Regions from separate parts of the Homo sapiens genome. Here regions 1 and 2 are each linked to region 3. The links come from fine-mapping of genetic effects on gene expression. A gene starts in region 3. Each other region holds a variant in brackets. All regions are shown on one strand. Distances are between the middles of the regions.

Region 1 (2,500 bases), 64 kb before region 3:
TGCACACACAAAATTACTGGGGTTTGGGGCTGGGTGCCTGTCTGTAGTCCCTCCTACTCAGGAGGCTGAGGCAGGAGGATCACTTGAGCTCAGGAGTATTAGGCTGCAGTGAGCTTTATCACACCACAACACTCCAGCCTGGGTGACAGGGTGAGACCCTGTCTCAAAACCCCAAAACAACAAAGATCTGCCTGACGGCTTTTTAGTGTCTGGAGTTGGCCTGTGTGTGCATTCTAACCTGGCAATGTTACAGGTAGCGCCTGCCTGGAAAAATGCTGCACCATCTATCTCTGCCTTTGGGGGACATTAGCGCAGAATTCAATTGAACAGGTACCTGTTTAGCATCTACTGTGTGACATTTGCAATTGGAGAGCAAAAATACAGAAGGTGGCCAAGCGTAGATGGAGCAGCTAGCATGCCCCGGACACTTTGGATACATGGTCTCATTTGAACTTGAAAACCACCCTGTGAGGCTGATGGTTCTATTCAGGAATAAATAATTGTCCCAAGATCACAGCTTAGTAGCAGAGACAGGATTTGAACCCAGAGCAGTCTGCCGCCACCATGCAAGGACCCAAATAACGGGATAAGCAGTTCTAGGAAAGGTATAAACACAGCTTGGCAGTTCAAGGAGGGTGAAATCCGCTCCAATTGAAACAGCATCATAGAAAAGGTGACATTTGGGACTGGGCAGGGTGGCTTATCCCTGTAATCCCAACAGTTTGGGAGGCTGAGGCAGGAGGATTGCTTGAGGCCAGGAGTTTGAGACCAGCCTGGCAACATAGCGAGACCCGGTCTCTACCAAAAATAAGTAAGTTAGCCAGAATTGATGGCACACACCTGTTGTCCCAGCTACGTGGGAGGCTAAGGTGGGAGGCTTGCTTGAGTCGAGGAGGTTAAGGCTGCAGTGAACTATGATCGTGCCACTGCAGTCCAACCTGGGCAAGAGGGAGACCCTGTCTCTGAATATAAAGGAAGAGACGACATTTGGGATTCACTTTAAGCCCATGGATTTTAGCGTGGTGATGTGCCTGTGGGCAAGGGAGGCTTTTAGGTTGAGAGAAGCTACTGCACAAGGATATGAAGGCAGGACAGCAGAGGAGCTTAGTAAATAGATATTGCTGCATAAGAGGCTGGAAAAGCAGATGACACCAAGCCTGGAATACCAGGGGCTGGTGGACAATGGGGAGTCACTGATGGTTCAGGAGCAGAGGAGTGACATGATGAAAATCAGGCTCTGGGAAAATGAAGCTGGCATCAGTGGACAGGATGGAGATGTGATGAAGGATGGAGGGTTTAAGAACCATTAGTCCTGATACTCTCTTGTTAGGGGTGTCACATTACTTGCTA[G/A]TGTAGAATTATTGCTGTTTTCTGTCTGCTGGTTGACTCTGTCTGATTCGTGTCTATCTCCAGCATCCAGGAAAAGACCAGAAGCATAATTTGCATAAAACTTATTGAAGGAAAGAATTAACTTTAGTATTCAGTTCTCTGGTGGTGACATTGCAAAGAACCCCAGTGAAGCAGATGCATGTCCAGGAAATCCTAATCAGACTCCTCATTGAACTTGGGAATTCCACTGTGATTTCTGGTCACTAATTGAGGAAGGTCTTTACCTTTGCACTTCATGCATAGCTTTTGTTAGGTGCTAAATAGGAACAAAAGCAAAACCAATCCAAATCCTCTCATCAAAATTGGAGAGGCAAACTATGAAACATTTAGGTAAGAATGTCCCCTCCCCAGCTTTGACACAGTCCCGTTGCCTACTTTACTCATCCAATGAATTAGCACACATAAAGCACTTACAACAGTGCCTGGCAAATGCCTAGTGCACAGCAAGTGTTAGCTATTGTTAATGACTATCCATTCATTCATTCCTAGAACACGAGTGATTTTTCAGTGCTAGCCATTATTTGTACATTTTCATGCATGTTATCTCAAACTTTGCCATAACCAGCCTGCTGGGGAAATGTCATACTTCCATTTGACAAATGCAGAGACTGAGACTCCATTTATCAGCACTTAGATTTTAATGTGCACACGAATCATCAGGGGGGCTTGTTAACTTACAGATTCTGATTCAGCAGGTCTGGGGTCAGGTCCAAGATTCTGCATTTTGAACAGGATCCCTGCTGCTGCTTCTGCGGCTGCCCCTGCCCATGGACCACGTTGAATAGCAAAGGTCTAAGCAGAGCCACTGCTGCTAAAGCGGCAGAACAAAGCGCTCTACCTGGAACCTCCCAGTTCAAGTTCAGGCTTCTCCCTTCCTTTTTTTCAGTCTCTTTTGCAAGTCTGCTGCTGGGTATCAAGGGTTCTCTAGATACGCACACATAGGCAAACAGGATTTAAGCAGGCCCCTTGATCCCGTCATCAAACATTTATTGGCCAGGCGCGGTGGCTCACGCCTGTAATCCCAGCACTTTGGGAGGCCGAGGTAGGCGGATCACGAGGTCAGGAGATCGAGACCATCCTGACTAACACGGTGAAACCCCGTCTCTACTAA
Region 2 (2,829 bases), 21 kb before region 3:
CAGTCATGGTTGCAGTACTTCCAAAATTCTCAGCAAGGCCCAATCTCTGAGCAGCTAGTCCAGGAATTTCCCCAGGTGTTAACACCACCTTCCCTTACACATGTCATTCTGAGTGACTGTTCCCAGACACTAAGCTGTTAGGAGTCGGCTCAACTATGCACAGGGAAGGCACTGGTCTTGGAGCTGGTACTTTTCATCCACTCTTCCTGCTCTCCTTGAACATTTGAATACAAACCTGGTTCCAAATGCCATCTCACCACCACGTGCTCTCCTGTTTGCTTCCCTGGATCTGATTCTTGATTACCTTGATTTTCTCTTTTTCCACTCAAATCAACTCCCACAGCACTGAGGTTCTTGTGGACCTTGGACCTCTCAAGGATTTGAGCATGGGGCAGGGACATTCCTGGTCCTGCAGGCTCTCAGCTTGCTTCCCTGGCCTGTCCCGCAATCCCTACCCATCCACCAGGAGGCCTGGCTTCCACTTCCTTCAGCTTCTCCCTGCCCAAGGCCTGCCCTTGTGCCGGCAGACATCTCCCACCTCCTTCCCAGTCTTCCAGGATCTCCTTAATCCAATTTGTGTGTCTATCTCTTAGTTGCCCAGGCCTGTAAAACAAACTCCCACAAACTCGGTGGTTTAAAATAACACACATTTATTATCTTACAGCTCTGGAGGTCAGAAATCCAAAAATCAGTTTTGCTGTGTGCGGATCAAGGTATAGGCAGGGCCGCACTCCCTCTGGAGTTTGTGATTACATTTAGGGCCTACCTGGATAATCCAGGATAATCTCCCTATCCCAAATTCCTTGATTTGATCATATCTGCAAAGTCCTTCTGTCACAGAAGGTTACCTTCACAGGTTGCAGGGATTAGGAAGTAGGTATCTTTGGGATATTCAGTCTACCATAGTCTCCATGGCTGTAGCTTCTCTGAAGGGTGTTTGATCCTTAAGGAGGCAAGTTTTTCTTGCCCTGATACCTGCCCTACATCTCCCACGAGTCCCCAGTTGTTCAAGCCTAGGGGTTCACAGTGCAGGCAGTGCCACTTGTGGGTGGAACCTGGTCTCAGGCTGGTTGACGTCGTCCTGTCATCTCTGCTGTATCCCATTCAAGGAACTTTCCTTCCTCCAGCGAGAAGGAAACCCAGTGAGATTCACCACTCCCAACTATGACGGAGCTCTGGCTCC[G/A]TGGTGAGTTGAACTTGGTACATTGTTCTTCATCCAGAAAGCCTATCACTGAGATGACAAGTATTGCCAAGGAAGAAAGATTTAATCAGGTGCTTGCAAACACTGCCTCCTTGCAAACACTGCCCGCTGCCTGGTGCAGGGGGGAGCACCACTCCCCAACAGTCCTCTTCTGCCCTGAAACCTCATGCAAGGACCTCCCCGAGCAGGGGTGGGGGACCACCCTTCCTCATCAATTCAGACTGTAAAGTGAAACCCCTGTTCTTGGTTGAAGCGTCCATTCTTTCATGCGCGTCCGTGTGAAGAGACCACCAAACAGGCTTTGTGTGAGCAACATGGCTGTTTATTTCACCTGGGTGCAGGTGGGCTGAGTCTGAAAAGAGAGTCAGCAAAGGGTGGTGGATTATCATTAGTTCTTATAGGCTTTGGGATAGGCAGTGAAGTTAAGAGCAATGTTTTGCGGGCAGGGGTGGATCTCACAAAGTACATTCTCAAGAGTGGGGAGAATTACAAAGAATCTTCTTAAGGGTGGGGGAGATTACAAAGTACATTGATCAGTTAGGGTGGGGCAGGAACAAATCACAATGGTGGAATGTCATCAGTTAAGGCTATTTTTTCTTCTTTGGTGTATCTTCAGTTACTTCAGGCCATCTGGATGTACACGTGCAAGTCACAGGGGATGCGATGGCTTGGCTTGGGCTCAGAGGCCTGGCACATTCAGGAACCTTCCCTGCTCTGAGAGGATCCCTGCTGTCACCACACTTGGCCCTCTGCTGTCCTTGTCTGGCTGAGAAGACATTCCAACTCGCTGAGGGTTGGGCGGGACTCTCACCCAGCTGTGGCACCCTTCTGCTCGCAGGTGCCCTGCTAACAGCTCCTGGCTCAAGTCTAGTAGTGTTTTGAGTCTAGAGGTGATTTGCTTTGGGCATGGCTGGGCTCCACTTATCAGTTCCGAGGTCTCCTCATGGGTGCCTCCTCTCAGCCTCCCTCCTTCCCTCCCTTTCTACCCAATTCCAGTCCTCCGCTGCCTGTGGCATGGCCAGCACAAGGCGTGTCCTCATGTCTGAGGCTGGTGTTGTCTTGGGAGCATAGCAGTGGATGTTTGTATACTTCAGAGCAGACCATCTATGGGACAAATCCATCTCTCTCATGTCCTCTTATAGCATAATTACATGTTTTGTGCCAAGTATCCTCTCTCAAAAAGCCTGAGTGAGAAGGAAACAGAAGGAGGTCCTGCAAGCCCATCCCCTGTCAACCTATGTGCCCCTCAGTCCAACTGCTTTAGAGGCGCCCTCCTTCCCCAGGGAAGGGGTGGTATCACGTGTTATTCCCACAAGTCAATGAGCTGTTGCTGTCTTCTGTTCATATAGGAAATCGGAGACTCAGAGAAGTTCAGGAACCTGCTCTGGGTGGCCCAGTGGGTGGGTGACAGAGCTCAGATCTGAGAGGTCCATTTGCTCCTCACCACACCAGTCTTTGTGAAGTGAGAGTAGGTGCGGTGGAGAGACACAAAGACATGACAGCAAAAAGGCCACAATCCCAAAAGCACTGTCCCAGAGGGTTGTAGGAGTTATTAAGAAATTATTTTAGGCAGATTGAGAGGAAAAATGGTCCTTGGGAAGTTTTCGTTTTCTTTTTCTTTAATTAAT
Region 3 (2,500 bases):
TTCTGCGCCCTCCCTCTCTGCCCCTCTCTGCTACTCTCCTTCCTCCCAAATGGCTTCTTTTTTCCCCCTGAGAGAGGATCACTGCAATGGGAGAGAAAACTAAGGGACAAGAGTGCTTCCCTTCTGGGGCTGTCCCCCCATGCTCAGAGGTCAGGGTCAGCTCTTACCAAAGATCATGATCACTGCCAACAGTAGGAGGGTCTTCATGGTAAGAGTTCTTGGGTGACAAATGCAGATGGACTGGCCTAGCTCCTCTGCTGGGTGGTCTCAACTTCTGCCCCGGCCGTCGCTCCCCTGCTCCTCCTTGGTGGCTCTGAGACACACAGACATGCTCTCCCATCCAACCTAAGTCCAGGGTGACTTCCTCTGTCACACTCAGAGCACACAAGGAGTGCCCTCCAGCAATGCACACACACACACACACACACACACACAACCACCTCCTGACCCGTTCCCAGCTCTGCAGAATGGTTTCACACACATCAGGCCCTCAGACCTGTGGAGAACCCCATGATACACTAATGAGACCTCCCCTGTACCTCATCAGACTGAGAGTTCTTGGGAGGTTGGAACCAGGTTCCTCCCAACTACCTGGGAGGTTCCTGAGGTCAGAGGATGTGTCCCTCGCTAGACATAGCTTGCATATCCCCACACTGGATTCAAGGCTTGGAGTCTCCAAGGCACCCATGGAGGCTCGGCCTCAGTATTTTCCTCCAGAATGAAAGCATCAACCTCTCTCTTCTAGGCCTTCTAACCCCTTCCACATACACAAGTTCCCAAACACATACATGTTAACACACCTATGCCCACATACACACACTCTCGTACTTACCTGATAGTGCCAACATCCTCTCTTACACTACACTCACATACTCACTCAACACACTCATGCACACACACCCTCTCATACATATCAAATCATGCACATGCATGCACAACACAGCCACTCTCAAAGGCAGCGAATGAGCAGGAATTCTGCTCTTGACAGGACATCAGCTTCGCTGGCTCTTTACCTCTCAGAGGACTCCAGAGTTGTATCCCCAGGCCGTCTTGTTTGTTCTGCACTCCTGCTCCCCTTAAATAGCTGCTCCCTCTGGGAGGTTGGGGGTAGGTGAGGCACAAGGCTGGGGATGGGCGTGGTCAGTTGGTGGACTCAGGATTGGTCGCCCATACCCCTAGGTAATCCCTTTCCTTCCCCTCATCAGCTGGCAGGACAGAGTTGAGGATTGGGAAACCTTACGTGTCAGTAGCTGATGCCAAAACACATTTCAGGCAGTTTTGCAGTCTTTCCATGGAGTAAATTCCCATAACCAGCTCTGGGTGTGATCAACGGTCAGCCACCTCCCTGCAATCGCCTCTAAGGGGGGCAGAGACTGTCTGCTGTTGCAGGCTGTGGACTCATTTGCACACCCAAAGGGACTACCAATTGCTGAGCAAGGATTGCTCCCTTCTGCTCAATGTGGCATTTGGGAATAGAAAAGAGGGCTTTTAGTGGTACTCATTCATTCAGCCGCTCAATCATTCATTCACAGGAAGTATGTCCTGGGCCTCTACCATGTTCCAGCACCTGTGCAGGCCTCACGTGTGCACCCCACAGTCCACCAGGGAGAGAGTTTAATGGGGGTGGATTTCCCTTCCCACTAACTTGGGCCAGGGCCTCAACTTTCTCTTCTTATTCTTCTTTCTTCTTTTCCTCCACCCCTGTCTCATATGAGCTTCTAAACCTGGAAAAAGCCAGAGGCTATCCTTGAAGTTCCCACCAAAGCACTGCCTTCACTTTATTCCCCATCCTCACCTGTTTGGAGACAGGGCAGGTGAATGCTCCCTGGATCTGTTGCTCTTTTTCCTTCAGCCTTCGGGCTGACACTGACTCCAGCTTTAATTCATAAAGTAAATATCTTTTTCATTGCTCTCCAGCACATGCTAAGAATTTAGCTTCCACCGCCTTAAGTAAACACTCTGCGATACCAGTCCTAAAAAAGTCACTGTGGCAGGGGCTGTGGTGCTTGTGAACATTCCATCTGTTCCCTACACTCTAGAGCCCCTTGCAGGGATGGAGACCTAGGGCCCTGCTGCTGACTGGTAAAACATGAGCACTGGTATGAAGGGTCACTTCCAGGTTTCTCCAGCAAGGGGACTATGAGATGCAACTCCCCAGCCCTTCCCTGCCCCACTGGTAGAACCAGAAGATGAAAGCAATCTGGGGTGTAAGAATCATGGCACGGAAGACAGTTGTCCTAGAAAGTCCTGCAGCTCACAGGGGTCTTAGTGTGAGTGAGAAATAGACTTTTGTTGTATTAAGCTGATGATAATTGAGATGGGCAGTTGCTGGAGCATAACCTAATCTATCCCAAGAGCCATCAAACAGCTTTCCTCTCGAGAATACCATTTACCTCCAGTGCTCGACTGTGTAAGGGGTTGGACTGTGGTCCTCCTTCCTGCTCTCAGTTCCTGTGTTGGAGTCCCGGTACCTTAGAATGTGATCTTATTTAAAAATAGG

Alleles and levels. Alleles are on the strand shown, and positions count from the first base shown. SD is a standard deviation of normalised expression in the study named. Not every link is listed here.
For the expression in lung of the gene that starts at base 1,052 in region 3, G is the low allele of the variant in region 2 and A is the other (small effect, 0.20 SD a copy in GTEx).

The links.
Region 1: its variant is fine-mapped to the expression of PLA2G2A in liver (GTEx, PIP 0.96).
Region 2: its variant is fine-mapped to the expression of PLA2G2A in lung (GTEx, PIP 0.96).

Annotation. Positions count from the first base shown.
Region 1 is chr1:19,915,033-19,917,532 of GRCh38, forward strand. No RefSeq gene overlaps it. Among named protein-coding and RNA genes, the nearest start is that of PLA2G2E, 7.3 kb to the right of the region's middle. The variant G/A (reference allele first, on the strand shown) is at 1,351.
Region 2 is chr1:19,957,539-19,960,367 of GRCh38, forward strand. No RefSeq gene overlaps it. Among named protein-coding and RNA genes, the nearest start is that of PLA2G2A, 21 kb to the right of the region's middle. The variant G/A (reference allele first, on the strand shown) is at 1,184.
Region 3 is chr1:19,978,567-19,981,066 of GRCh38, forward strand. PLA2G2A (phospholipase A2 group IIA) reads right to left here and starts at 1,052. Exons shown (of 5, transcript NM_001395463.1): 1 at 1,014-1,052; 2 at 168-313. The coding sequence starts at 207. RefSeq lists an enhancer at 1-195.